Regions from separate parts of the Homo sapiens genome. Here all the other regions are linked to region 3. Evidence: fine-mapped expression QTL. A gene starts in region 3. Each other region holds a variant in brackets. All regions are shown on one strand. Distances are between the middles of the regions.

Region 1 (10,570 bases), 36 kb before region 3:
CAGGCAACTAATCCTCTGTAAATGGTAATGTATCAGTATTAACACCCTCCCTAGTCTAGAATTTAAGAACATGAAGAGAAAGTATCAAAACTTCTGTGAGAGGGATAGGTCTAGAGTCTCTGAAGGGCTTTCCTGCTGCAGGCCAATGGATCCATGACAACAAATGTAATTCTTAAAACATTGCTGGGCTTTGAAGAACACAGAGAAACTAACAAGGGACTAAAAAATGGTGGGGGAAGAAGGAGGAGCAAAGAGGGAAGAAGAAAGGAGGCAGAAGACAAGTAAGCCAAAACCTGATCTGTAAGCAACATGCAAAAGAAAAAACTGCAGAATGCCAAGGAGCTGATGCCAACACCAGCGCTAGGATTTACAGGTGACTATCCCCTCCAGCCCCCAGTTCCCAGCTATGGTAAGTTTAGGGAACTGAACCTGAATTTCCATTCATAAACCAGAACCCTCAAATGGAGCTAAAGTGCTCTCAATCAAGAGCATTCCCAGACTCCCGGCAAAAGCAAAGACAAATCCTCTGGGAGAAACCAGGATTAACAAATGTGAAATCTGTGGTCATTCAGTACCACTCTCAAAATCAAATATCACAAAATATGCAAAAAAAGAAGCCACTGTGAATGAGAGGCAGCTGAAATAACCAGCATAATTAGACAAACACTTAAGCTACTAGGATTATCATCTACAAAATATGAAATATTACACAGTAAATGTTTAATAAAATAAAAGATGTCTAAAAATGAACGAGGATCAAGAGACAATCGAAAGCAACCAGCCACATAAGAATGCCAAACCAAAAAAGCTGTTAAAAACATGAAAAAAATCATTGAAATGTACAGCTCAATAGATTGGTAAAGTAGCAGATTTGTTCCAAACGAAGGGAGTTAGTGAACTGGAAGAAACAACTGAAGAGACTTCCCAGAATGCAACACAAACAGATTGCGGGAGGAGAAAATAAAAGCAAGCTTAAGAAACAGAGAGGATAGATCAACAAGTTTAAGTAAGAATCCTAGAAAGTATGGCCAGAATGAACAGAAACTTATCAATATTTGAGAAGACAATAGCTAAGAATGTTAGAGAACTATAAAACATATGAATCCAGAGACTTGAGAAACATACATATACCAAGCAAGATAAGAAATCTTCAACTAGATATTTTGTAATTAAACTGTAGAACAACAGACACAAAAGATCTTAAAAGAAGCAGCTGGGTGCAGTAGCTCACGCCTTGTAATCCCAATACTTTGGGAGGCTGAGGTGGGCGGATCACAAGGTCAAGAGATCAAGACCATCCTGGCTAACACGGTGAAAACCCGTCTCTACTAAAAATACAAAAAAATTAGCTGGGTGTGGTGGCGGGCACCTGTAGTCCCAGTTACCTGGGAGGCTGAGGCAGGAGAATGGCATGAACCCGGGAGGCGGAGCTTGCAGTGAGCTGAGATCGCACCACTGAACTCCAGCCTGGGCGACAGAGAAAGACTCCATCTTTAAAAAAATAAAAAATAAAAATAAAAATAAAAATAAAATTTAAAAAAATGAAAAAAAAGAAGCCAGAAAGAAAAGACATTTAAAGGAACAACAATTACACCAAAAACAGAGTTTAAAGCTGCTACAATGGCAACTAGAAGATAGTAAAAATGTGGCACAAACACTACTACTACTACTATTACCAACACCACCACCACTACTACTAGGGTGTGTAATATAAAAACTGCTTGAAGACAATAAAGACCAAGCTAATGGAGATAAAACTGAAGGGATTATGACTCTCCAAAGAGATGCTTCTTTGCCAATACATTTTAAAACTTTGGTGATAAGAACAAATCCTCAGAATTCTTCAAATTCTTAGAAAAATATATAACTTACCAAACTTGAATCAAGAAAAAAAAACCAGAAAATATGAATAATACTAAAACAAGTCTAAAACTATCAAAGAAATTGAATGAGTGGTTAAAATCTTCACATAAGTAAAAAAAGCACCCCAGTTGCAGGTGGTTTTATAGGAAAGGTAAAAAAAACATTTCAATGACAGCTCATTCCAATCTTATAGAACTATGTTATATAACAGAGAAAGAAGAAATGCTTGACAACAGGTTTTATAACCATTACCACAGGACCAGTCAAAAACAACATGAGTATGAGAAAGAAAAACTGAGGCCAACCTCAGCTGTGAACAGAGATCCAAAAATGCAAACAAAATATTAGTCCAGGCTGGGTGCAGTGCCTCATGCCTATAATCCCACAACTTCAGGAGGCCAAGGCAGGAAGATCACTTGAGCCCTGGAGTTTGAGACCAGCCTAGACAACATAGGGAGACCCTATGTCTACAACAAATTAAAAAGAAAAAAAATTAGCTGGGCATCGTGATGCACACGTGTAGTCCCACCTACTCAGGAGGCTGAGGCAGGAGGATCACTTGAGCCCAGGAGGTCAAGGCTACAGTGAGCTATGTTCACACCACTGTACTCCAGCCTGGGCAATACCCTGACTCAAATAATAATAATAATAATAATAATAATAGTAATAGTAATTAGTCCATCCAAAAATCTAGAACTGTAATTCACCATATTAATACTCAAGAAGAATCATTATCATCTCAATCAAGTTTTTTCAAGAAAAAATTTAAAAACTTCAAAACCCATCTATGATTTTTTAAATAAATCTCAAACTAGGAATAGAAACAAAGTTATTTAATTTGATAGAGAATCTACCAAAAAGTTACAGAGAATATTACTCTTAATATTTCACATTAACAAAACTCTCTTTAGATCAAAAACAAGATGACCCTTTATCACTTCCATTTACCAATGTACTGGAAGGCTGACTCAGGGCGGAAAGCAGACCAACTGGCAAGTATGTCCACTCCTTACTCATAGACAATCTGTCTACCAAGAAAACAAAAAACCTGTAGACAAAATGTAGGAATTAAACAAGTCACATATATTTACTTAATCCAGCAGTGGGACTGAATAAACATGAACTAAATTTAAAAACATGGATAAATCTTAGAATTAATGTTGAGGGTAAAAAGCATGTCGAAGGTGATTATGTACCATAGGAGATCATTTCTATTACACTCAAAACAAAACAAAACCACACAAGAAATTATTTAAGGGTACAAATATGTGTGGCAAAGCCATTTTTTAAAAGAAAGAGAATGATAAAATGCAGGGGAGTTACTGTCACAGAGGTGAAAAAGGATGGTGGAAGAGCACCTAAGTAGCTTTTAGTTCCTAAAATGGTGAAGGGGGAGGGTGTCAAGAGTATGTGCTTTATTACCATGCTTCCTAACTTACATATGTTATAGATTCTTTAACCATTACATAAATAATATAATTAAGTTGATAAAATAGTACAAACAAATGATGGTCAGTAGATACATATTTAAGTAACACACTTAATTAAAGCTCCTGTTAAAAACAACTCATTTCACAGGTTTCATTCAAAGGACGGTAAACACAGGAAACATAATAACCACTACAGAATATGTGTATCAACATATGTGTATCAATAGCGAATCAACATCTGTACTCTGGGAAAGGAGTATAGCTCTCAAAGGAGAGAAAGGGGAACCAGGGCTATTGAGCACTAGCCATGAAGCCAAGTCCTGGGCAGGAAGTTTCCCATATCTTGTTTTTTTTCCATAAACTCAGAAAGCCCCTCACCATAAGGCCCTGGAGAACTCTCCTACTGTAGGAGATCTTTCCTACAGTGCTTTGCCCTCCAGCCAGCTCTGCACCTGCTCACATTAGGCCTTTCCTTTACAGCTATAAAAGTTTATCTTCTCACACTAACCTAAGCCTACACCTCTCAAACCACAAATAATTTCTAAAAAACCAACAATTAACTTTCGGAACCTATAATTCAGTTCTGAGTGTGTTCTCCAGGTACCCGTAATCTGGCCACTTATCTAATACATTTGGACAAGAAAGACTTTAAGCTTAATAAGTCAAAAACCACACCCAAACATTGTTTCAACTTTGAAGATATGATCAATGCACACAGATATACAGATGCATAAAGATCATAACCTCACTAGTAGAAAAATATATATCAAAAAAAGTTTTTGCATGTCAGATTTATATATATATGTATTTATATATATGAGACGAATCATCTCTAATGTTAGAGTATAGGAAATTTACATAAGACTTACATATCAGTTTATATAACATTTTTGGGTTTTTAAATTTTTTTATTTTTTACAGGGCAGTTTCTCAGTGTGAATATATGACCTTTTGGAGAGCAATTCAGCAATATCTGCTACTATTTAAGATGTGTGTACTCCTCCATCTAATAATTTCACATCTAGGTACCCATACAGGAAAAACTATCACACATGCTTGCAAAAAAAGAAAATCACGAGAAAATTATTTGTAGCACAGTTTGTAAAAGTGGGAGGGTGGGAGGAAGGAAGGAAAGAAAAAAATATATGTCCACCAACAGCCATTTTTATTTGTCTTCAAATAAAATTAAAGATCAAAAATACTTTATTTCCAACAAGAATTATAAAAGCTAAATAAACTCATCAAAACTTACTTCAAAAAGGAAGAGGATGGAGTCCAGCTCCTCCCTTTGTGACTTATTATTCCCTGGAATATTAAAAAATAATTAGTTATCATGACATCATTTAAACTTCAGGACACTACAAATTATGCTAAAAGGCAGCTTAAAACTAGTAAGCCTCAACATACATTCATTTATTCAAAAAATAGCAAGAGGCAGTATGGAGAACACATTAGGATTGCAAACAGACAACCGAGCCCGACTGCTCAGATCCACATCCAGCAGAGCTGCCCCTTGCTAGCTGTTTGAACACAGCTTCCATGTTTTCCAACTTGTTACCAAACTATGATGGGTAATTTATTCATTTCTCAACTAGTTACTTATTGGCTCAAATTGTGGCAGAATGCACAGCACAAACGAAAAATTTCTAAGTTGGTAATATAAAAAGTCATAGAGCAGATAACTATAAAAGTAGTATATCTTTTGGGGCAACTGCACACTGTCCTATTGATAATAACAACAGTAATAAAACCTACAACACCTGCAGCTGAGGTTACCATTTTCGGTCCTCTCTGTGTACCAAGCATCGTGCTAAGTGCTTGGCGCATATCATTTAATATAGGAATCAACAAACCTCTTCTGTAAAGGGTCAGACAATAAATATTTTAGGCTTTGCAGGCCTCTCTTACAAACACTCAAATCTGCTGTTACAGTACAAAATCAGCCACAGACAATACATAAATAATGGATATGGCTTGTC[C/T]AATAAAACGTTATTTATAAAACAGGCAGCTATAAGCTGTGGACCCCTGATCTAACTGAATCCCCACAGCTCAATGAAGTAGATATCATTCATTCATTCATTCATTGAATAAATACTACAGAATGTCTATATGCCAGGGATTATTCTAGGCCCTGAGGATACAGGAGTGAGCAAAACAGACAACAATCCCTGCCCCCAACAATTTAATATTCTGGCAGGAGGGGGCATTCTATAAATGAGTGAGAAAAACAAGAAGGAATGCAGACACAGAAGCCAAAAAAGATGGTATGCAATTTTGACTGGGGAAGTCAGAGAACATCTCTCTGGTAAGGTAACATCTGAGAAAAGATCCTTTGAGGTTAGGAAGCAAGCCATATGGAAATGTGGGGGTTTGGAAGCAAGCCATACGGAAATTTAGGGGAGGTGTATTCCAGGCAGAGGAACTGAACAATGCAAAGTCCGTGTAGCTCAACATGTCTGGCTTAGTCAGAAAACAGTCAGAGGCCCTTAAGGCTGGAGCACACAAGCGGGACAGTTGGAGAAGCTGAGGTTGGAGAGTAGGTGAGGCAAAAGAAGGCAGATTAGGTGGAGCCTGAGACCACTGTAATAACAGGGAATGAGAACCCGTTTGAAACTTTACAGCAGCCAAGAATCATGATTTGACCCATTTTTTTTTTTTTTTTTTTTTTTTTTTTTTTTGAGATGGAGTCTCACTCTGTCACCCAGGCTGGAGTGCAGTGGCGCGATCTCGGCTCACTGCAAGCTCCGCCTCCTGGGTTCACTCCATTCTCCTGCCTCAGCCTCCCAAGTAGCTGGGACTACAGGCGCCTGCCACCACACCCGGCTAATTTTTTTTTGTATTTTTAGTAGAGACAGGGTGTCACCATGTTAACCAGGATGGTCTTGATCTCCTGACCTCGTGATCTGCCCTCCTCGGCCTCCCAAAGTGCTGGGATTACAGGTGTGAGCCACCGCGCCTGACTCATATTTTTAAAGGAGGACTCCAGCTGCTCTTTTGACAAGAAACTATGGGATGGGAGAGGGCACAAGTGTGGAGGTGGGAGACCATTTCTGCAGCTAATGCTATAATCCAGGTGAGGATATCAGGAGTTTCAGTGTTACCAGTGTAGGCAATGAGAACAGGCCGGTGATTCTGGATGTATTTTGAAGATAGAGCCAATAACTCCGGAGTTTTGGCCTGAATAACTGCAAAGGCTCAAGTTATCACAAGATTATTTATTTCATTATTCCTTGTAGGCATTTTCTTTTATTCTTTTTTAAGGTACAGTGTCTTCCCTGCACTCCAATCGAACACAGATTATACTAAAAGCAAAAGACTTCAAAAATCTCACTATTTTTATTGGTTCTTCACTATGATTCTTTGCAGTAGATTGCAAGAATGGCCACAATCAAAGACCACCACAGTGCCTCACCCTGAATTCCTTCCACTCCATGCTTGACAACTGCCTGTTCTACAGGAGCAATCAGGGCATCTGACAAGGGGTCCCTTGATTTTTCCTCTCCACCTCAAAATGTCTCCATATCTACACTATCCCCTTATCTGCTCCTCCTTACATAGAAAGGTCACCTGTACGCTCCTCTCCATGTCTCTTCTTTTTCCTTGACCTGTCTCAACTCACTTCCCCCAACACCTGCACCATTAGTTATCTCCCCCTCCAGCTGACCCACTCCTCAATCTGCAAACAGGCCAATGCATTCCTCAATAACCTTCCCGTGACCAGGGTGAGATACAATCTGTGTCTTCACATCAAACTTTCTGAAAGGATATTCTCATGGGTCACCTTCAACAGCTCACCGCCCTGTGACTCCATGTCCATCTGTTTGGCTTCCGACCTGCTCCTCACCTAGAACCTTTCTCTCCGCACTCACTAACAACCACACTGATGAGCTCTTACTCCCCAGCCCAGCTGCACCTCATGCACCAATAGGCTGACTCTACATGCCTTCAATTCTCTCTCCCCTGGTCCTCTGTGACAAAACCCTTTCCTGGTACCCCTCCTACTACTCCATCGCTTTCCTTTGCATATACCCAATAAAATAAGGAATTATCTAAAAGTTCTGACCATCACTCTCTTTCTCTGTATATACTTTTTCCCTTGGCAATAACACGATTTCACCTCTTTTCTCCCAAGCTCCAGTCACCTATATTGTACTGTCCAGCCAACACCTACACCAAGGTATCCCCCATGCACCTCAAACACAGACTGCCCAAAGCCACTCTCACCCTCCTGCCTTCCAAATCTGGCTCCCCTCCAGGGTTCCTGCGCTAATGGCACCTCACAAAGCAGACTCAGTGTCCTGAAAGCATCTTTGACTTCTCCCTTTCCCTTATAACCAAGTCTCATAGATGGTAGACCCACTGAGACACAACACTTTTCTTTTCCCTTAACTACTGCCTCCCTGGATCAGGCATCACCATCCCTCAGATGAATGACAGCATCAGCCTTCCAATTGGTGTTCTTGCCTCTGGTTCAATCGCTACTTTACAAGATACTTGTGATAGTAACAAACACTTTCAAGAGCTCTAACCACCTCCAGAACAAAGTCCAAACTCCTTAGCCTAGAATTCAAGGCTCCTTGCAAGCATTATCTAATTTCCTGCAAATCTCTTTCACACACCTTTGCTGCAAGAAAAAAAAAATGCATTTCCCATACATGTCGTAAGAACAGCCCTACCTTTACTCATGTTCTCCCCTCCAGCAGCAGTGCCGCTCTCTTCCACCTGAAATCCTGCTGTCCTTCAAGGTCCATTCCCAAGGCCACCTCTTCCCCAAAGCCTCATCTATATACTCAGCAGGAAGTCATCTCTCCCACTTCCCAAGAACCACAGAATTCTGTCTAAATCTCTCTTACAGAACAACTGACTTTTTAACTTTTTTCACAGTTATTTATGCATATGGCTTATTTTTTAAATAAATGAATGACATCTACTTCATAGAGCTGTGGGGATTCAGATTCAGCCCACAGACTACATGAAAATGAAAGAAGATGGTGACAGCAGCTACTACTTACTGACCATGGACTATGTGTCAAACTCTGTCCTAAAATGCTAGGATACCTGTGAACCTGTTTAACGCTGACAGGAGGAAGCCAGCTCAGAGACAGATTAATTTGCCCAAGGAGAAACAGCTAGAAGGGTGGGGCCAGGTTCCCAACCCAGTCTGGCTCCCCAGGCTACACTATCCTACCACTTAGGTGACAGGATGTATAATGTATACAGAACAGAATGTATAATGTGACCTTGTTGGTTTGATTTTCAAAGAATATAGTCACAAACATATATAAACATAATACATTAATAATATATCTGGAAGGAGATGCAGGAAATCTTTAATAGTGGTTGCCTCTGCAAGCAGGGCAAAACAGACACTTGAGTGTTCATTTCAGACCCTTTTATGGAATCTAAATTTTTTTAATAGTATGCATGTATTACTTTTCTTTCTTTTTCAGTAACTTACTCCTTTGAAAATCATGCTTTCTAAGGGTTCCTTCTGCTATTTTTGCTAGCCATGTGTTGTTCAATTAACATCCATATAAGTGAAAGCTCAAGAGAAACAAAGATGCCACCCTGTCCACCATGCTCTCACAGCTTTGCTAAAGGCTTGGCAAGAAAGAAAGCTTAAAAATGTATAATTTGTGGCTCATGATATATACAACTTATAAAAATGCCCGAATGTTTTTTAAAAAAAAACTACTGAAATGCTTACCTTTTAATTTCAAACTATTTTCCAGTGCTATAAAATTTTCATAGAAGATGAAATATATCTGAGAATAGTTGGTCTCAAAAAACTGCTTAAGATCATTTGCATCCACATTATCTGAAAAGAAAAAGTTTCCATTTATGACAATTCACTTTATAAAATCACAAGAATTTAGAAACAAACTTCTCAGAAAAGAAGGCAAGTACAACTAGTTTCATTCCCTTATAAGACAATACAAAACAAAACAGTATTCCTGTTTGTTTATTCTCCACCTAAGAGAGTTCTTACTTGAACCTTGAGTACCACCCACCACTCAGCCCTGCTCAGGAGACCGTGGAGCCAATTCAGGGAGGTCGGAGCTGACAGGAGCCAGCAACAACGGACCAGCTAGAAGGCTGGAGGTAAGCAGGGGCAGGTCTGGGGAGGGACATGACTTCCTGTTACGGGATGAGGAAGTAGAGGTTCATGGAGGAGGCAGTTTTTGACACAGGCCGTGAAGAGGGATGGGTTTGTACCTCTGAAAAACAACTTTGCTGGTGGAGCTCCTAAATGGACCAATCTCTGCTCCCTCCCCACCAACATAACTCTCTGGGCATGAAAAGAGAAACCAGCTCAAGTGAACTAGCACATGCTCCCCAACCACAAGCTTCTAGATGACCTGCCCCCACTCATGTATGGACACTGTAGGATCTACCATGTGTTCCTAGAGTTGCCCCTCTTGTACTAGACAGTTTTGCTAAACCACAGACTGCGGATAGATAGGCGGGGGTGTGGGGAACTTAGCACAGTGACAACTCCCACTGGGGCTGATTAGCAATACAGCCAGTTCTTCCAAGGGCCCCGATCAGCCAGGGTAAAACCTCACAATGCTGGGGGCTCAAAGTAGTTATCCACTGTCAACACACCTTTGTACATTTTCCTCAGTAAACAAGGTTGTTTGTGCCATTTACAGAGTACTGACCAAGGAGTTGGCACTTTGGGAGAATACACTAGCATCTGAGGAAAAGTAAAAACAGCTTTCTGGAGCCAGGCATTGTAGCTCACACCTATAATCCCAGCTACTTGGGAAGCTGAGGCAGGGTAATCGCCCGAACTCAGGAGTTTCCTGAGGCTACAGTGAGCTATGGTTGAGCCACTGCACTTCAGCCTGGGCAAGAGTGAAACCCCTGTCTCTTAAAAACAAAACAAAACAAAGCAAAAAACAAACAAACAAACAATAAAAAGCTTCCTTAAAATTCTGCAAGGATTACTCAAGAAAAAAATGTGTTGCTCTTCAGTCTGTAACAGTGTGGTACCAATTGCTTTTGCAGTCCTAACACTGTGAATCTATGTGAACATACATATTATGATTTTCAAATTATATAACGTTAGCAATAATGCAGATGATTCTGAAGAGTTGTTTTTCTCTGATAATTGTATAAGAGCTTTTCATGCAAAAATGTGCCCTGGCTCTTTGAAATAATGCATGTAAGGTGCTTATAAAGTCTTATGAGCTGCCAATTTCACACTATATTTACTGCACCAAAATAAAACTGGGCACACAGCTGTGAAAATTCCTAGCAAGGAACAAATTTAC
Region 2 (10,570 bases), 200 kb after region 3:
CAAGGTTAATGTACAAAGATGCTCACTGTCTAATAATTTACACAGACTAAATGTCCAAAGGACGAATGAATAAAATATGGGACATGTACACAGTGGAATTCTGTGAGACTATTCAAAGAATAAAATGGCTGGGATAGATAGATGGTAGTGAAAAGACTCAATAATATGCACGTGTGCCATTTTGTCAACATGCGTGTGTGCTCGGGTACATCCCTTGGTTGTTTTACACAATGCAAGAGTGGGTCATCCCAGAAGTGGGGCTGCACAATTGGAGAGAGCTTTTGCTTTTCACTTTTCTTCATTGTTCACGTTTTTATGATGATCATGTACTACCTTGGTAATGAAAAAATTAAAATGAAAAGAATCAGCTGGGAAATGCCGTGGTTCGCATGAAATGTGGTCCTGAGAAGATGTTATTCACTCTATCACCTATTTTCTCACTTCTCCTGGTATTGTGGTTGAGTTATGCATAATAGGCATGGGCATTGATAACAGCTTTGATTCCTGGAACAATAGCCGAGATAATGAGGAGACCACTTCATTGACAATGCCCAGCCACGCCTTGTCAGAGACAAGACAAACATCGGTGCAGGTGTTGGAACAATCAAGTCTCATTTATCTGCTATTGTCCAAGAATGAGCTCATCGAGGCTAGTGAATTTTCCAAAATAATAGAAGCTTATCAATCCTTTAAAGGGCCTTTTTATTTTTTAGTTTAACCATTTTTTAGGGTAATTATTCCTAAATGGATTTCACAGCTCCTGCCTTCTTAAAGAGCGTCCAGTTGATGTGGACAGGAGACAGGAAAATACTGGGTAGAAGAGGGCGGTTCCCCGGCAAAGGCTCCACCCTCCAGCCCGAAGACCTGTGGCCCTAAATGAGGACAGGCATTTCTGTTTTCGCGCCCAAAAAGTTGCCTTTTGGGGGCCCGCCGCACCCCCTGTCCTGCACCCATATAAGCCCTGAAACCCAGGACCCAGAAGCAGACCAGCAAGCCAGCCGACCAGCAAATGGACCGCGGAATGACTCATTAGGGAAAGGGAGAAGAGGAGGAACATCTGAAGGCCGAGAGGAGTTGGGCTGAGGTCGCTCGGAGAGGAGTCTGGGCTGAGCAGCCCAAGTCCAGGGGAGGATCACCTTCCCACTACATCCCCACTTCCGGCTCCACATCCATCCCACTGAGGGCCACCTCCACCACTCAATAAAACCTCAGCAAAGCTGAAAGAGCATTTAAACATTGGGGTTGCAGGCAACCAAGACCAGACACTACCACAGGGCCAGAGCCCAAAGCGCTTGCCCTGGCCTCTATACCTGTGGATCTGCGTGCTTCTTCTCCCACAAGGGCTTTGAACCGGTGAGCCACATCCCTGTCTCACGTCCTGTGAGGGGAATCAGGGAACACTCCCGTTTCACAGTGGCCACATAAGAACCCATCCCTGATGACTTGGGATTATGGTGATGACTCCGGACCCCTGAGCTCTGACCCCTTTCAGGCCACTGAAGTGGGTGGGGAAGCTTGCCGGTACTTTGAATCACCGCTGATCACTGTGATTTTTGATATATTTATGATTGGACATTGCTGCTACTTCTGTTACTGTCAGTCAGCCTTTAAAAGTAATCTACTTATGGGACCTTACCCTGGCTGAGAGATCTGATACAAAAAAAAAGTGAATTTATCCCAAAGCTAGCTTGGGGGAAGGGACACAAAGCATCCTGCCTTTATATGCACCGCTGCACCTTGAGAGCAGAAAGTGAGCAGATTTATTTATTTATTTATTTATTTCATTTGTTTGTTTTTGAGACAAGGTCTCACTCTGTCACCAGGCTGGAGTGCAGTGATGTGATCATAGCTCACTGCCACCTCGACCTCCTGGGCTCAGTTGATCCTCCCACCTCAGCCTCCTGAGAAAGGGGGCACTTCTGTAAGGCAAGGGAGGAAATGAGCAAGGACAGAGGTCCCCTGCTAGCTCAGTGTCTGATCTATCAGACTGCTGAGTTGGAGCCTTCCTGGGCAGAAGTAAGTTGTAAAAGTGGCCAAGCGGGCATGCTTTCGATAAGCCCTCCAAGTGGATGAAGGTTCCGAGGATGGAAGTTCCAAGACAACACCCTGGTGGTGAAAGTTCCGTGGGGGCATGCTTTGGTCTGCAAACCGACTGTCACCTCTCTAGGAGAGATGTGTCTTGGAGCATGTAGTTGGAAGAACTTGCCCTGTAGGGAATGTCTGATGAAGGTGAAGTGAAAGAGAGGGGAAAAAATAATTAAACCACCTCTAGAAAAATGAGCGTACTCGGTTACAATTCGATGCTCCAGTGGGGCCAGAATAAAGATGTGGGTGAGCCAGGTTCCCTGGCAGGTGGCTCTGGGAAACACTGTGAGAGGTCTGGAAGGAGAAGAAAAGGGAAAGCAGCAGCCCAGGGAGCGCTGACCAGCAGCTGTGGGCAACAGAAACACACAATCCCACTGTGGATATCTATGAATCTAAACCATTTGTTCTAAACCCCTTTTAGAAAAGAATCAAATTTTCCTTTAGAGAAGAAGTGGAATAAGAGAAGGACATGAAGTAAAAATGAGCTGTGTTGTGAGAACACATAAACAGAACCGGGTGAAATGGTTGTGCTGAGAAGGTGACCTGGGCCCCCAGCTGAGTGGAGCAGTCAGCGCTGGAGAGAGCAGAGAGAGTAGGGCTGGCTTCTATAGCCACCAGCACACTTGTAAAGCCAGCCATCCCAGAGCAGGATACACGTCTCCTTGCTATATTAGGTAATTCCAGGGTCTGGGGAATAATAGCCCACGTTAAGGACAGGATAGAACTAGAGGTGACCAGTACTTGGACCCCCTTATGCCCCGGTTGTCATGCCTTCCCCCTGAACCTCAATTCCGTCATCAAGAAAATGGGAGATAATAGCTTTTAGACGCCTACTATATTATAGGAAATCACATGTAAAATTATGTAACAGATCACCCTCTATCCTTTCTAATCAAGTGCCTTTTCCTTCCTGACATGAGACAATAACTGGTCAAGACTTCAAAATCTGGGTTATAAATAAGATATCTGGCATAAAGAGTTTCTCTTTTATTCTTCTTATGTATTTTTCTACTCTTGGACACAAGTCATAGCATTGCAATGTCTTTTATCTTTTCAATCTTACTCGTGGTTTCTCCAAATATGCCAACATGTGCTTGCAGAATCTCTCCTTTGACAACAATAATGTGGAGCTGAACACTCATGACTGCATTAGTGACTTTTAATTAACTCCACCTTAAGTGTGTCTGAGGACCTCCCTAATTTTCTCGAAAGCTCCTTTAACTTCTCAGCAGCCCGGGGTTTGTCATAACCCCATTAGCCACGTGGGTGTATCTGCATGAGACTCTCCCATCTTTACCTACCTAGTGAGCCACTGTGATGAAGGGGGGACATGCTTGGCTGGCCCTACAACTCACCATGGCAGTAAGTGATATTTAGTCAAGTTGTTCTTGCCATCCCCTTCCAAATTTCAAGCTCTTAAAAAACATGAGAACTCTCAAGTGCTTGTTGACTTGAATGCAATAATAATGTGGCCCTTGGTGAGACCACATCAGTGCCCCTTACATTGACCTAAAAGGAGATAAGGATTTTCTGTTTGTGAGGCAACGTTCTTGATATGAGATCTGTAAACCTGCAGTTTCTGCCTTATGAAAACATCACGCAAGCTCTGATGGCATGTCGTCCTCCTCTGGATAGATCTTTGGGCTTTGTGAGGCCTCCCCTCCTTTTTTTTTTAGATGGAGTCTCACTCTGTCATCCAGGCTGGAGTACAGTGGTGCTATCTCAGCTCACTACAGCCTCTGCCTCCTAGGTTTAAGTGATTCTCCTGCCTCAGCCTCCCGAGTAGCTGAGACTACAGGTATGTGCCACCACACCTGCCTAATTTTTATATTTTTAGTAGAGACAGGGTTTTACCACGTTGGCGAGGCCAGTCTCGAACTCCTAACCTCAAGTGATCCACCTGCCTAGGTCTCCCAAATTGCTGGGATTACAAGTGTGAGCTATCGTGCCTGGCCAAGGCCATTAGAACTCAATCTTGGTCCCCTGAGTTTTCTCTAAACTTCAGGATGTCTTCCCAACTCATTACCATGCTAGAAAGTGTACAACACTGTCAAATAGAGTTGCATCTGGCAAAGGGGTAATTATAGTTTTCCTTTCTCATCCTGGCATCACTTACCAAGTGATCATTGTCTTAGCAACTTTGAGTGAAGGCATTTATCCAAGTGTCTTGTTTTGGTTTCCTCCAAAAGAGAACCCTGAGATGAGAACCTGGAAGTCAGTAATTTATTTGGGAAGTGATTCCAGGAAGTACTGTGTGGAAGCAAGGAAGTGAGGAAAGGGAAAGAATCAGTACAGGGTGCTCTGGGAAGACTAATTCTGTGAGCAACTGGAGTCCAATCCCGCTGAGACCTCTGGGAAGCCATCTCAAAAACACACTTTAGAGTTGTCCCACATGAGGATGCTGTGGCACTCATTCGTCAACCTCCATCTATTATTGGTTGAGGGATGCTTCTCAGAGCATAAACTTTCCGGCACTTCCAGCCTGACCACCTTGTAGGTGAAGAATGTCCAAAGACCAGAGAAAGTCCCCTGGAAGACAGAGACTCAGGTGTTTGAGGTAGAAAATAATCAGCCTAAACAAGAAGAGTTCATTCAAGGAATAGGTGACATTTGGGGTGGGACAGTAGGATGTGGGCCGAGCATTAACATCATCTGCTACACAAACCAACAGTGGATATCAAGATAAACCATTCACTTTGACTCTTATATAATCCTTCTGATAACTAAATGATTTGTTTGTGAAAGAT[T/C]TGATGAGTCAATGAGTAGTCTTAGACCATGGAAATAGCAGCAGATGTTAGCCTCAGAACAGAAAGCCTAGAAAAACTAGGACATAGTCCAAAATTGAGAGGAATGAGAAACCAGTCTTAAAGTTGGAAAACCTCATTAATCAAAGACCAAAGTAAAAGAGTCCTATGCAAAGCTGGAAGTGAAGGTGTAACCAGCACTGAAGGGTCAGGACAATACTGGGGCAGAACCATGCAGGCAGATAAGAAAAATGGTGAGCTACTTTTTAAATTTCTATTACTCTCTGTCTTTTCCCCTGGAAAGAGAAAACATTCTTGAAAAATAAGGAGGGCTTTGCATGTTTGTTTCAAGAGCAGCACTTAGTGGTGGGAGAAGTACTCCTCTTCATTCTCAGCAGCTCTGCAGGGGAGGACCCAGGCAAAATAAAAGAAGGGAGAAACCACATTCGTGAGGCCTGAGAAAAGACACAAAGATGGAAAAGGAAAATTGGCCTATCATTGAGGGTGGTATTCCTGGAAACAAGTTTCCAGGGAAGACGGAGAAAATGGGGTCACTGGCACAGAGGGAGAAATTAACAGTGACAAGTCTGCACTAGAAATCCAAGCCTGCTTCTCTCTCTTTTCCTTGTCATTGCCTTACAACACAACTCCTGATGAACACAAGGTGCCAATTGGCCACATTTATACCACATGGTCTGCCATCACAGATACAGATGACTGGCATAAAATGAATCATTCTATTGGCTGGAATGACTCAATCAGATTTTCTCTCACAGAAATTTGAACTAAGAGATCCAGGAAGTCTAGTTTGGGAAGGTCTAGCATAAGGACTGTAAGGTCATTTAGCTCTGCTAGCAGTAACATACAACAGGGACATGCACAGATGTAGAGGCAAGGGTGACATCAGAGAAAATGGCTAGGTAAGGATCTCTGAAAGTTCAGGCTTCTATGAAAGCAATGAAAAAATTGGCAAAATTTGGCAGAATTGACTTTTTCAGAACTTGGAAACTAACCAAAAGCTTGTAGCATCCCTGTGAGGATTTAAAAATATGACTGAATCTTGATAAGAACAGATTGTGGCATTTTAACTTACTCTAGTCCCATCCTCCACTTCTCAGCTTAGTGGTAGCCTTGAAAAATCAGTCTGTATTCCTGGTACCAGAGGGAGCAAAATGGACTTTGTTTCCAAATAAGTGTCTTATTTTACTGGTAGTTCTCTGGAAGTCCCTCATTCAGAAGGCTTCTTTATTTGACTTCATTTGAACTTATCCAGTGATTAAAACCTTTGAAAGGAAAAAGGAGGAGGATGGCATTTGTCAAATGTTTTAACATCACAGCTGACTGGGGTGATGGATAACAGTTAGGGCAAACAATGGAATAATCAAAAAATCTAAAAGACAAACCTGAGGCATGAGATGTCCATAGGGGCTTTGAAAAGTTTCAACATGTTACTGGGAATCTAAAAGGCCACATGCATGCCCAGGGCTGGGTGCAGGTCTGAGCATTCTCAAGAAAGACCTGAGAAGGCTCTAAGTGCTCACCTCTGGCTGTCCTTGAGGTTCTACACAAATAGGAAGTGAAGACTAAGGTAGAGTTGCTGAGAGATGAAGGCATGTATCAATACACATACAGAGGCCCCAGGCAAAAACTTGGAGATTTATTAGCTCCAGATATTTAAGGCAATCTCTGCGAATCATTAACCTACCACTAAGCTAACTGTGTGGAGACTTCAGTGGCCACTCATGACTAAGATACAGACTTCACATATTCAGAAAAGTTATTAAACAAACAAACAACAACTACAATAATCAGCAAACATCCCTGAGGAGGAAGGAGAATTTGATTTTCAGTTTCTATATTATATATTTGAAATGTCTAGTTTTTGACAACAAACATGAGTCACACAAAGAGACAAGAAGTATGACCTATACATAGGAAAAAACATCAGTAGAAACTGCCCCAGAGGCAGCACAAACACTTGGTTTATGGGACTTAAGACAAATATCTAAATCAGCTATTTTAAATATGTTCAAAGAGCCAAAATATGGGGATGATATCTCAACAAACAGAAAGTATCAACAAAAATATAGAAATCACAAAAGAAACCAAATAGAAATTCTTGAGTTAAAATGTACCATGATTGAAATAATAAATTTACAAGACAGACTTAATGGCATATTTGAGCAGGCTAAAGAAGGAATCAGTGAATCTCAGGATAGGTTGAGATTTTCTAGTCTGAGAAGCAGAAATAAAAAAGAATGAAGAAAAATGAACAGAGCCTTAGAGACCTTTGGGATACCACCAAGCATACAAATATACACATAATAGAAGCCCCAGAAGGAGTGGAGAGAGAAAAGGGAGAAATGTTGATAATTGAAAAAATAATGGTGAAAACTTATGAAATTTGATGAAGAACTTTAATCTACATATCCAAAGAGCCTAATAAACTCCAAGCAAGATAAACTCAAAGATATGACATCTGGATACATAAGAATCAAACTGTCAGAAGCCAAAAGCAAAGAGAAGCTCTTGAAATTAGCAAGACAGAAGCAACTCATCAAGTACAAAGAATCCTCAATAATATTATCAGCTGATTTCTCATTAAAAAGTCATGGAGGGCAGAAGGCTGTGGGAAGATATAATCAAAGTGCTCACAGAAAAAAAATGTCAACTAAGAATTCTATATCTGGCACATTATCTTTCAAAAATGAAGGAGAAATTAAGACATTCTAAGATAAACAAAACAGAGAGTTCGTTGCTAGCACACCTGTCTTACGTGAAATACTAGCAGGAGTCCTTAAGACTGCAACAAAAGGTCTCTAGGCAACAGCTAAAATTCATATGAAGAAAATAAAGAGCACTAGCAAAGGGAATTATATAGGTAACTCTAAAAGAGTATGTACTGTATTTTTGTTTGTAACTTTTTTTCTACCTTATTTAAAAGACAACTTCATAATGCAATAATTATACACTTAAGTTGATGGACACACATGTGTAAAGATATATTTATGACAATAACAGCCTAAAGGGGGTAAGATGGAGCTACATAGGAACAAAGTTTTTGTATACTATTGAAATTAAGTTGCTATTAATCCAAATTAGATTGATGTAAATTAAGATGTTAGTGGTAATTCACAGCGTAAGCAATAAGAAAATAACTCAGAAGTATATAGTAAAAGAAACAAGGGAATTAAAATGGTACACTAGAAAATATCTATTTAACACAAAGGAAGGGAGTTATAGAGGAATTGAACAACAACAAAAAACAAAACCATATAAAACAAATGGAAAACAAATAGCAAATTGGCAGATGTAAATCCTATCATAGCAGTGAGGATTAAATGTAAATAGATTAATCTCCCCAATCAAAAGTTAGAGATGGATAGAATGTATTAAAAAACAAACTTAACCCAAGTATATTGTATTGTCTACAAGAGACATGCTTTATCTTCAAAAACACAAAAAGGTTGGAAGTAAAAGATAGGGAGAATGGAAAAATATGTGCCATGCAAGACTGAAAGCTTAGTCTCTAAGATCAAGAATAAGACAAGGATGTCCACGTTCACTACTTCTATTCAACGTTGTACTGGAGGGTCTAGCCAGGGCAATTAGGCAACAAAAATACATAAAAGTCTTCCATATTGGAAAGGAAGAAGTAAAACTATAGTTGAACATGACATAATCTTATATATAGAAAACCCTGAAGAATCCACACACACAAAATTAATAGCTAATAAATGAGTTCAGCAAGGTTGCAGAATATATGATAAAAATACAAAAATCAGTTATATTTCTATACATTAACAATGAATAATCCAAAAATGAAATTAAGACAATTTAATTTAAAATAGCACTGACATGAATAAAATATTTAGGAATAAATTTAACCGAAGAAATGCAAGACTTTTTCACTGAAAACCGTAAAACATTGTTTGAAAAAAGTTAAAGAAGACCTAAATAAATAGTAAGACATCCCATGTTCATAGACTGGAAGATTTAATATTGGTAAGATGAACAATTGTTCAGATGACAATACTCCCCCTTGATCTATTGATTAAACGCAATCTCTACCAAAATTTCAAATGCCACTTTTACAGAAATGGATGAGCTCATTCTAAAATTCATATGAAATGGCAAGGGACCCAGAACAGCCAAAATAATCATGAAAAAGAACAACATTGTAGGACTCATACATCCTGATTTTAAAACTTACTACAAACCTACAGTAATCAAGATAATGTGGTACTGGTATAGGATAGACATGTAGATCAATGAAATAGAATTGAGAGCCCAGAAATAAAGCCGTACATCTATGATCAATTGCTTTCCAGCAAGATTACCATGACAAGTCAATGGGGGAAAGAATAGTCTTCAACAAATTTTTCTGGGACAATTGGATAGCCACATGTAAAAGAATGAAGCTGGGCCCCTACCTTTTCTCATATACAGAAATGGATCAGAGATAAAAATGTAAGTGCTAAACCTACAAAACTGTTCAAATAAATCATAGATGTAAATTTTATTACTTTGCCTTAGATAGTGGTTTCTTATATGTGATACCAAAAACACGTGCAATGAAAGAAAAAACAAATTTGACTTCATCAAAATTTAAAAATTTTTGTGTCAAAGGCTATCAAGAAAGTGAAGAGCCAACCCACAGAACAGGAAAAAATATTTGCTAATAACACAACTGATAGGCATCTAAAATTAAAAATATAAAGAACCATGCACTAGCTTATAAATAACTCCACTCATCCTTAGGTCTAGGTTCAAGAACTAAATCCACAAGGAAATCTTCCCCCACCTTCCATCATGGGTTAGGTTCCCCTCTCTCACACATACTACCCCATTATAAGCTCTCTGGAAATTCTTCCCTTTCTTTATGGCACTTATAATTTAAAATTTACATGTATTTAATCTTTGTTTAACATCTAAGTAGAGCTGAACTAACATAGAAATAACCACTGTTAACATTTATTTATTTATGAATAAATATGTGGATGAATTTAAATGAATAAATCTGTATAAAATTTAGGTTGTGTTATATTTCTGTGATCTTTTATGCTTTTTAAACTTTTATGTCAATAATATTTTTGAATGAATTTTGAAACTTTGTGGGTAAGACGGTTGTTTCTTAATACTTGCCAGTTTCTGTATGACCTGGCTACACTACTTGTCCTTTTTTTTCAATATCCCACCCTTGTTTTTTGACTGAGCTAGTTTGAGTTGGATGCTTTTCTTCCAGCCAATCATCTATGATTTGCAATTCCTCTGAGTCAGAAAGTAAACAAGAAGTGCATGGCCGAGGAAGTACCTGCGATACTGAGGTGGAGAGGTGAGAAGTCAGGGCTCTCGGACCTTGGTCCTAATTTTCTTCATCAAGGAAGACATGACACATCTACTGAGAATGAATAAAGGACTCTAAGGGACATGAAAAAGCTTTGGAAAAATCCTTTTCCAGAAAGGGATTCGAAATGTTCATCTCCCTGGGAGATGAGAAAGATCTGGACGTCTGTTGTAATTTACTCACCACTCAGTGAGCAAATGTCCATCGAAGCCCCCTAAATTGTTGTTAATGGTGTTGAGATCCTAGTGTTCTAGTATACTCACCATTGGAAACTTCTGGGGCTTAGAAAGTTCTTTCTTATAATCAGTTATATGTGCCTCTCCCAATACACTGGTGCACTTACATTCTTCTGAGGACACCACAGAATAAGCTATAGAGGAAAGGATTTGCCTGG
Region 3 (10,570 bases):
TAAATACATGGAGTTAAATAAAATGCACTATTAAAATTAATTTCACCTGATTCTTTTTACTTTTTAACATGTGGTCACTAAAAAAGATTAAAATTGCACATGTGGCTTACATTATATCTCTATTGGACAGAACTAGTCTAACCATTCTTTGGAACCCAGCGTAAGTAAAACGTTGATATGATTTGGCTGTGTCCCCATCCAAATCTCACCTGGAATTGTAATAATCCCCATATGTCAAGGGCCGGGTGGAGATAATTGAATCATGAGGGTGGCTTCCCCCATACTGTTCTCATGGTAGTGAATGAATCTCACAAGATCTGATGGTTTTATAAATGGGATTTCCCCTGCACAAGCTCTCTTGCCTGCCACCATGTAAGACATGACTTTGCTTCTCATTCACCTTCTGCCATGATTGTGAGGCCTCCCGAGGCATGTGGAACTGTGAGTCAATTAAACCTCCTTCCTTTATAAATTACCCAGTCTCAGGTATGTCTTTATTAGCAGAGTGAGAACAGACTACTACAAATCTCCTTAAAGATGCCCCTATTTTTATGACATTCTTAATTATCTCTTTTGTTCTCTGAAATCCTATAATGGATTCTACCATATACCTGACCATCTAATTACATAACACACCATAAATTTACTATTATTTTGTATCTATTCTTCTCACTACATCAATGCCAGTTCTATATCCTAATTTAGGACTCATAGTAAGCACTCAACTTTTAATTAGAATCTGGCCAGGCATGGTGGCTTATGCCTGTAAGCCCAGCACTTTGGGAGGCTGAAGTGGGAGGATCGTTTGAGTCTGTGAGCTCAAGACCAGCCTGGGCAACATGGCAAAACCCCGTCTTCTACAAAAAATACAAAAATCTGGCCGGACATGGTGGCTCACACCTGTAATCCCAGCTCTTTGGGAGGCCGAGTCGGGCAGATCACCTGAAGCCAGGAGTTCAAGACCAGCCTGGCCAACACGGTGAACCCCTGTCTCTACTAAAAATACAAAAATTAGCCAGGCATGGTGGTACACACCTGTAATCCCAGCCACTCAGGAGGCTGAGGCATGAGAATTGCTTGAGCCCAGGAGGCGGAGGTTGCAGTGAGCCAAGACGGCACCACTGCACTCCAGCGTGGGTAACAGAGTGAGACTCCATCTCAAAAAAAAAAAATACAAAAATGAGCCTAGTGTGGTGGTACATGCCTGTAGCCCCAGCTACTCCAGGGGCTGAGGTGGGAGATTACTCGAGCCAGGGAGGCCAAGGCTGCAGCAGTTGAGGCAAGGTCAAACTACTGTACTCCAACGTGGACAACAGAGCAAAGATCCTGTTAAAAAAAAGACATGGAATCTTTGCTGGAGCAATATGGTAATACACAGGGTTTTTTGGTTTTTGTTTTGTCAACAGTGTAGGAAGAACTGGAAGTCACAGGACCTAACAGCTCTTCGTTCTTCCTCTAACATAAGTAAACCGTCTGCTACATGGCTTGATACGTGTCAAGCCTGCCTGTGCCTCAGCTTACCCCTCTGTAAAATAAAGTTAATCATACCAGACCAGTCTATAGCCAGGTGAAAGTATCTACATCCAAATTGGAGTTATTACCATGATACTAAGAAATACTCTACTTCCACAGCTAATTTTATGTTTCTCACCCAGTTGTTTTAAATACAGACTACTTTTTAGGAAAAGAGAACAAATTCATCACTATTATCAAAAATAAGAAAGACGGAGAAAAATTACCTATCAAAATACTGGTCCTATCCTATTAATGGTGGGAGATATGTAATGGGAAAGAAACTGTTAAAGGCCTACTTCAAGCTGAAGTCATTTATTCATCATACTCACAATAATCCTTTAAAAAGCAAACATTACCATACCCATTTTACAGAGCAAAGAAACCGAGGTTCAGAGACAGGCTACGTAACTAGCTCAAGTCATGAAGCTGCAGGCGGCAGGGACAGGCTGCAAATACCCAAGTAAGTGGCATAATCTTTGCATACTTAAAAAAAAACTTTATTATCACTTGAAGATAAAATATATGAAAAGCAAAAGTGTTATATAAATACACACATAAAAATACAATAGTAATTACTATTCATTTCCTTCAAATAGTTTCCTTAATCTTGGCTTAATTCCTAACTTTCAGTTCAAGAGGCCTTTGTTTTCTAAGTAGACTTTTTTTCGAGTAGCAATGAAATAGAATATGTGATTAGGTAGGAACTAGTGCATTACGTACTACTTTTTAAGTCTTTAATAAATCACAGGAGCAAGTGAAAGTTTACATTAAATATTATGACTAGAATTCCTCAGACACATTTTACAAAAATCTAGTCCCTACAAAGATCACAGTAATAAACAAAGCAAACTGGGCCACTCCACTAGTAAGTATATCAACAAAAAACATACACCTAAGGAAATATAAAAGAACCTCTCCATGTTACAAAACTGAGGTCATGATGAGTTCAGTGAAATGATAAAAGAAAGTTCCCTAAAATAAGACCTACACCTTAGAGTGAAACTACAATTTTACAAACTTGAAAAGAATCAACTTTCTCAGAATGGGAACAATGTACTGTGTGCTAAGAAATAACCTGATCTAGGTTTACTTGATTCTGCCTTTATAAAATGTAGCCAACTTAATCTTGCAGACCTGGACAGAACAAAAATTTAAACGCTAAAGCACAGAAAAAGGCTCAAAGTATCAAACGCTTTAAAACACAGCTCAACTCTCCTTTATCAAAAATGTCCCTGCAGTAGGTGTTAATCAGTCACTACCAGGAACTCCACACAATGCAACCTGTGTATTGTGCAACCTGTGCGTGCATGGTATCTACAGGAAGTAGAAAATTCAGTTTACCAAGAACGCCACACTTCACTCTCCACACTTCACTCTCAAAAGTCTTGAAAACGAATCCCTGTAACAGCAACTAATTTACATTTCATTTCAAACTGAACAAGTCAGTGTAACCTCAAGGTATGTGAGATTGTGAATAACTTCACTTGGCAAAATCAGGTGTGGTTTGGTTTGGCTTGGGTTCTTCTCCCCCTCAGAGGTAGAATATAAATAGAAATAATCAGCAACTTCTGATCTCATGAACAAGATCTTTATTTAAAATCTTCACACGTTAAATCATTTTATGCAATATTCTTTCAAGTGACAGACACATTAGCACTAGGCGATTTTTGTGAATTTTGGGACTAAAAGACACCTGGAAGAAACATAAGGTGTTCTTTCCTTCGCCACCAAATACACAGGTAAGTGTGTCTATAGATAGCAAAGGTGTTTTCATCCCAAAGAAAAGTTAAGACTTAGGATGTAAAAAAATACAGAAAACAAAACATAGCCTAGGCGAACCAGCTACAGATCACATGCAGCAGGTGACAGGAAGCCTTGTGGACACCTCACACCCACAGGGGCGAGCTTCATCACAGGTCAACTCCAAGCCCACCTGAGCTCCTCAGAACCTCCACCTGGCAGGCCATAAACCAGAAGGTGGCAGACAGCATCACTGTCATGCCGGTAATAAAGGAGAAGCAGCCTCCCTGAACCCAAGAAAACCACCCCTCTCTCCAAGCAGGAAGAGAAGGCCCCTTCACACCAAGGACACAAAGAAACTGAAGCAGCCAGACCCAAAATAAAAATTAAATTTAAAAAGCAGCATGGGAAGACAGATGACAAATCTGTGCTGGGATCGCCTGGAATCTCGGTCTATATGGGGGTCTCACACTCAAAAGTAAAAATAAAATTTAAAAGGGGGATGACAGAGATGAGAGCCCAATTAGGTCTGTGCTGGGTTCACTTGGGGTCTCGGTCTACTTAGGGTCTCAGACTCAAAAATAAAATTTTAAAAATGAAAGGGGGAGGTGACAGTTCAATGTGTGCACGTGATGACCACTTGGGATCCAGTTCACTTGCTGGGAGGACAGGGGACAGGTACCTCTGTGCCCGGCCTCCAGGTTCTCCGGGAGCGCAGGCGCCCAGCGAGAATCTGGGCTAAGTTTAACTCGAGGGCGACGGGAGCAGTGCCCGAGGGCCAGGCTGCGGCTTTCTGGAAACAAAGCCCCGGGGGTCCAAGCCCAGATCCAGGGAAGGGGGTCGGACGCCCACCCATCCCCCTCCCCAGCCTCCCAGCCACCGACCCCTGCACAGAGGAGCGCCCTCCCGGCAGGTGCCCCTAACCCGGCGCCCCGACCCCCGCGCCCGGCGCGCGCCTCACCCAGCAGCGCCCGCAGGTGCTTCAGGCGGGTCAGCACGTCCTTCTTCGGGTCCAGCACCTTCTGGGTGGACTTCTTCACATCCCCGTGGCTCCTTCGGGAGAACATCCCGCGGCAGGAAGCCCGGGCCCCGCCGGCGGGGCAGTAGGCGCCTGCGCCACGCGAATCAAAGCATAGGGTCGAGGCCGGCGCGTGTCGCGCGGGCCACTCGCCGCCCCCAGCCCCGCTGCTGCCGCCGCCGCCGCCGCCGCCGCCGCCTCAGCTGTGTCTCCAGGAAGGAGGGGCGGGCCGGTCACGGCGAGGGGCGGGGCAGGAAGGCGGTGTCGACGGGGAACCGAAGGCCCCGCCCCGCGGGAGGTGCCGGCCGGCCCCTTGGGCGCTACGCACGCGCACACAGGCCGAACTCTCCTGGCGGGACACTAGCCCGTCCGCGCCAAAACCTAGCGGGGACGCGCTCAGAGGGCCGAGAAGGCGCCTCGAATCACAAAGGAGCTTCTCTCACGCACACGTTGTACTACAAGTCCCGAGATGCACCGCGAGACAGTCCTCCAATCAGGCTGGCGGTCTTCGGCACGATGGGAGTCAGTGGGCCGGCATTGGGCACGTCGCCCCGCCCTGCCGCGGGCCGCAAGTGCTCCTGGGAAATGAAGTTCTCCAGCAGGCGACGCGCTGCGACCTCTTTTCCAGGGTCGCAGAAGCGCAGGGCGGCCTCTGTCCGTCCCCTGCCCCGGCAGCCTAGATCGCCCGTGGTTTCACTCTCCCTCCTGCGCGCCCACCCCATTTTCCTCTAGTGCAACGTGAACCACACACGCCCAAAAATCTCAGTAAGAAAAGTGTCAAGGCTTTTCAAATGCAAACTATTTTTAGGTTTAGCTTCTGGATTCACACAAGGGAGCGAGTCGAAGCCCCTCTGACCGTGCCGAAATCGCAGCTCTAATTTCACACTAAAATGAGTTGCTTTGGCACTAGGGAAGAGCGTGCCCCGGTGAGGAGTTCAGCCGGCCCCTAGGTTCCTGGAACCCAACCTCACTTGGGGTATGGAGGTCGCTCGCTCAGAGGGCTCCTTGGGATCTTGCCTCTTTGTAGGAAGGGTGCGTTCTCTGTTGTGCAAGCCACATGGCGATCCAGTAGCAGAACCAGAAATAGAACCTGAGGGATCTGACTCAGGCCTGTATACTTTTTAAAGCCAGGCGCTTATTCCCTGGGGCAAGACTTTGAGCTGAAAGATGGTCAGGAGATTTCTTACACTGTAGGATTGTATAGTGGCATCCGAATCCTGCAAGTTTTGACATCCTTTCAGCTTTTTCAGCAAGTACTTAAGGTAGAATCACGTGGTTTCCATCCAAATTGGGACAACACAACTGTCTTTTTCTCCTCTAGCTGAACTGTAACTTGAGGGAAGAGACAAGGATTTACACGCCTTTGTATCCCCATCCCTCAGCACAGTATTTGGCCCATAGGGTCACTCAATAAAAGTTTATTAAATGAAATACAATAAAAAGCTAAAGTAGTCCTACATATTTCAACCAGGCAGGCGAAAAGGAAAAAATAAATAAATAAACTCACAGTTTTAGAGCGTCTCTCTATTTTTAGATTTGTGTAATATTCCTTTGTATAGACACATTCATACAAAGGAATATTACTCAGCAATAAAAAAGAACAGACTACTGATAAACCCAATAACATGGATCACTCTCAGACCCGGAGATGAAAGCCCCATGCTCAAGATGATGGCAGAGCGGCCCTACCAGCCTGAGTCCCCAGATGATAACAGATCAGGACCACAAACTTCTAAAAGTGTAACAAGAGAGCAAAATAATGTCTTATCTTAAGTCAAGGCATTTTGAGAGTCTTCGTTACAGCAATTGAGCTTGTACCTGATTACACATAGTAAACCACAATGTTCACTGTCCAATTCCTTTAGGAGAAGATACTTTTCCTTACACTGATTGAAAAAATAGAATATACTTGTCTTAGGAAACTCCATTTTTTTAATTGCAAAGCAAGCTGCCATCATCATCAAACATTTATTGAGCACCTGCAATGTGTAAGGCATGATTCTAAACCCTGGAGATAAAAGATGTATAAGGTGCATCCTCCTGACCTCCAATGCTTCCAATCCAGTTAAGGAGGCTGAGCGATTAGATACATGTGGGAATAAATGACAGTGTACAGTGAACATGTGATACTATCAAGCTTGGTAATGCCAGAAACAGGCATCTGTGCATATAAATTCATCGCACCCATCATATCTAGCCTTTACCCAGTAATGAAAATGTAGAACTCCAATTCTTCTCTTAAAAAGGAAGAAACATATAGTATTATTATGTTGGTACTTTTTCACCCACTTGCATATTCCATATGGCTCTTCTTATTTTCTGTTGTTCTTTCTAAACTCGTTCCTGCTGGGCTGTGAACTCTTTGAGGGCTTCACTTGCTTTGCACTGAATTCTTTATCCCTGGAGTTATAGAGTGCCGAGTGTTATGCAGACATTAAGTGTTGTTGAATAAATGTCCTACAGTAATCAGCAAATAAGAATAATGAGATCAAAAGTTTAAAACTTGCAATGCAAATTAAAACTACTCTGAAATATCATTTGAATTAGAAAAAACAAGCAAACAAAAAACCTCTACAGAGACAAGGTGTGATAACACACTCTAGTCTGGTGGCAGAGCTATAGAAAACATAGCTGGTAGAAATGTTAGATGCTACAACTCTTATGGAAGGAAATTTGGCAAAAATAAATATTTGCCTTTTGACCCAGAATTTCAATTTCTTTTTTTCTTTTTTCTTTTTCTTTTTTTTTTTTTTTTTTTTGAGATGAAGTCTGGCTCTGTCACCCAGGCTGGAGTGCAGTGGAGCTATCTCGCCAGGTCCAAACGATTCTCCTGCCTCAGCCTCCCGATTAGCCGGGATTACAGGCGTGCGCAACCACGACTGGCTAATTTTTTTGTATTTTTAGTGGAGAGGGGGTTTTGTCATGTTGGCCAGGCTGGTCTTGAACATCTGACCTCAGGTGATCCATGGGCTTTGGCCTCCCATGTTTTGTTGTTTTTTTTTTTTTTTGACAGTCTTGCTCTGTCCCCCAGGCTGGAGTGCAGTGGTGTGATTTCAGCTCACTGCAACTTCTGCCTATCAGGTTCAAGCGATTCTCCTGCCTCAGCCTCCTGAGTAGCTGGAATTACAGGCATGTGCCACCATGCCTGGCTAATTTTTGTATTTTTAGTAGAGACAGAGTTTCACCATGTTGGCCAGGCTGCTCTTGAACGCCTGACCTCAAGTGATCCACGGGCCTCAGCCTCCCAGAATGCTGGGATTACAGGTGTGAACCACCACACCCAGCCAGAATTTTGACTTCTAGGAATCTACCCTGCAGATATTCTAATATATAACACTGGAAGGATTTAAAAAAAAACCTTAACATTAATGCCTACCTAAGTGGGATAGAGGATGAGGTGGAAAGGACTCAGTGTCCTCTCTGAGTATATCTTTTTATATTTTTTTCATTTTTGAACCATGTAAATGTTTTCCATATTCAAAAATTGAAACAGAAAAAGACAAGCCTGAAAATAAAAAATAAATGGAAAAAATAAAACTAACAATATATGTAATTGGTAGGATAACTCTATGGAGAAATAAATATAAAACCATGCATGGAAGTTTATTCCTTTCACCACTATTTATAATAGCCAATGTAGTGGGTTGAACAGTGCCCACCCTTCCCCCCAAAAAGATATGTCTATGTCCTAATCCCTGAAAACTGTGACTGAGACTTTATTTGGCAGAAGGATCTTTGCAAATATAATAAGATCCTCAGTTATCTGGGTAGACCCTAAATCCAATGACAAATGTGCTTGTAAGAAACAAAAGAAGTGAAAACATAGAAACAAAGGAGAAGGGCACATGAAGACCAAGGTAGAGATTGAGGTTATGGAGCCACAAACGAAAAGACCCTTATAGCCAAGAGAAACTGGAAGAGGCAAGAAAGGATTCTCCCTTGGAGTCTTCCAGAGGAAGCCCAACACCTTGATTTCAGACTTCAGGATTCCAGAACCGTGAGAAAATAAATTTCTGTTGTTTTAAGCCACGCAATTTGTGGTAATCTGTTGCAGCCACTCTAGAAAACGAGTATGACCAGATACCAGAGAGAACCCTGTGATTGTCTAACAAGGTACTTATATACACATACATCTATAAGTGGCTAATTTAATCCAGTTCATCCACACAGTGTAGCACTATGGAGTACTATGCAGCTGTTTAAAAATAATGGGAAAATTTCGCGTGTACTGACTTGACATAATTTTCCAGATACGTTGTTAAATATAAAAGGAACAGAATATTAAAAATTTTTTTTTCAAAAAGAAACACTGGAAGGATAAATAAAAAGCTAACATCAATTCCTACCTAAGTGGGATGGAGGATGAGGTGGAAAGGAATGAAACAGGGTCCTCTCTGAGTATACCTTTTTATATTTTTTTCACTTTTGAACCATATAAATGTTTTACATATTCAAAAATTAAAATAGAAAAAGACAAACCTGAAAATCAAAAATAAATGAAAAAATAAACCCAACCGTATATGTAATTGGTAGCATAACTATATAGAGAAAATAATTATTTCAAGTGATTTTTGAAAACAGTATTCTGATTGTACCTCCTTAGAGGGATGTATTCTAAGGGCAAAAAGATCTGCAAAGAATTAATAATTATTATTAAGAACCAAGATTTTCAGTGTAAGAGAAAGGAGATACAAAAATATCACATCAAAGAAAATGTGAAAACTCTGTAATACTAGATTTTACTTCAAATATCCATTTGAACTCATAATTTAAAAATACAGCATGTGTTGGCCAGGCGTGGTGGCTCACGCCTGTAATCCCAGCACTTTGGAAGGCCAAGGCAGGTGGCTGAGACTATCCTGGGCAAGATGGTGAAACCCTGTCTTTACTACAAATGCAAAAATTAGCTGGGCGTGGTGATGCATGCCTGTAATCTCAGCTACTGGGGAGACTGAGGCAGGAGAATCGTTTGAACCAGGGAGTTGGAGGTTGCAGTAAGCCGAGATGGCACCACTGCACTCAGTCTGGTGACAAAGCGAGACTCCATCTCAAAAAAAAAAAAAAAAAAAACTAAACAAAAACAAACAAACAAATGTCATACATGAATGAAATGAATGAATAAAAAGAAGGCCATACATTCTTTTCTATTTGCTGGACGCAGTGGCCCACACCTGTAACCCCAGCACTTTGGGAGGCCGAGGCAGACGGATCACTTGAGGTCAGGAGTTCGAGATCAGCCTGGCCAACATGGTGAAACCCTGTCTCTACTAAAAATACAAAAGTTAGCTGGGTGTGGTGGCAGGCACCTGTAATCCCAGCTACTTGGGAGGCTGAGGCTGGATTGCTTGAACTGAGAGTCAGAGGTTGCAGTGAGCCAAGAACACGCCAGGGCACTCCAGCCTGGGCCACAGAGCAAGACTTCATCTAAAAAAAAAAAAAAGAAAAGAAAAAGAAAAAAAACAGATATGCAGTTGTCCAACAATATTTATAAAAAGACTTTTTTTTTTTTTTTTGAGATGGAGTCTTGCTCTGTAGCCCAGGCTGGAGTGCAGTGGCACATCTCGGCTCACTGCAAGCTCCTCCTCCTGGGTTCATGCCATTCTCCTGCCTCAGCCTCCCAAGTAGCTGGGACTACAGGCGCCGGCCACCATGCCCGGCTAATTTTTGTTTTTTTAGTAGAGACGGAGTTTCACTGTGTTAGCCAGGATGGTCTCGATCTCCTGACCTCGTGATCCATCCGCCTTGGCCTCCCAAAGTGCTGGGATTATAGGCGTGAGCCACCGCACCCGGCCTATAAAAAGACTTTCTTTCCCACATTGAATTAACTTGGAGCATTGGTCAGTTATCAATCAACCGTGTACGTATCTATTTCTGGATTCTCTGTTCTGTTTCATTGATCCAGTTGTTTAATCCTAGACCATTACCCCTCTGTCTTAAGCTTTATTGAAAGTCTTGATTTCAGGTAATGTATATTATCTTTGTTCAAGATTATTTTGGGTATCTAGGTCCTCTCCAATTCCATATAAATTTTAGAATCAGTTTGCCTATTTCCTTAAAAAAAAAAATCTGCTGTGTGTTCTTGTTCTTCTAATCTCTGTAAGTGCTAGAAGCAATCATCCCCAGTGGTAATGGAATATTGGTTTCCAAATACCATTCTCCATCCTAAGTAATCAGGTTCTTTTTTTTTTTAATGAATTAATTTTTAAAAAAAGTAGAGAGAGGGTTTTGTCATGTTGCCCAGACTGGTCTCGAACTCCTGGACTCAAGCAATCTGCACACCTCGGCCTCTCAAAATGC

Direction of the effects. Positions count from the first base shown, and alleles are read on the strand shown. Sizes are in standard deviations (SD) of each study's normalised expression. Not every link is listed here.
With allele T in place of C in region 2, the expression in anterior cingulate cortex of the gene that starts at base 4,486 in region 3 is lower (large effect, 1.1 SD a copy in GTEx).

What was found.
Region 1: its variant is fine-mapped to the expression of RALGAPA2 in whole blood (TOPMed, PIP above 0.99).
Region 2: its variant is fine-mapped to the expression of RALGAPA2 in anterior cingulate cortex (GTEx, PIP above 0.99).

What each region holds. Positions count from the first base shown.
Region 1 is chr20:20,671,691-20,682,260 of GRCh38, forward strand. RALGAPA2 (Ral GTPase activating protein catalytic subunit alpha 2) reads right to left here. Exons shown (of 40, transcript NM_020343.4): 2 at 9,001-9,111; 3 at 4,546-4,598. Among named protein-coding and RNA genes, the nearest start is that of RALGAPA2, 36 kb to the right of the region's middle. The variant C/T (reference allele first, on the strand shown) is at 5,273.
Region 2 is chr20:20,910,514-20,921,083 of GRCh38, forward strand. No RefSeq gene overlaps it. Among named protein-coding and RNA genes, the nearest start is that of LINC03083, 55 kb to the right of the region's middle. The variant T/C (reference allele first, on the strand shown) is at 4,833.
Region 3 is chr20:20,708,159-20,718,728 of GRCh38, forward strand. RALGAPA2 (Ral GTPase activating protein catalytic subunit alpha 2) reads right to left here and starts at 4,486. Exons shown (of 40, transcript NM_020343.4): 1 at 4,217-4,486. The coding sequence starts at 4,322. RefSeq lists a silencer at 4,377-4,636 and enhancers at 4,628-4,922, 4,747-4,946.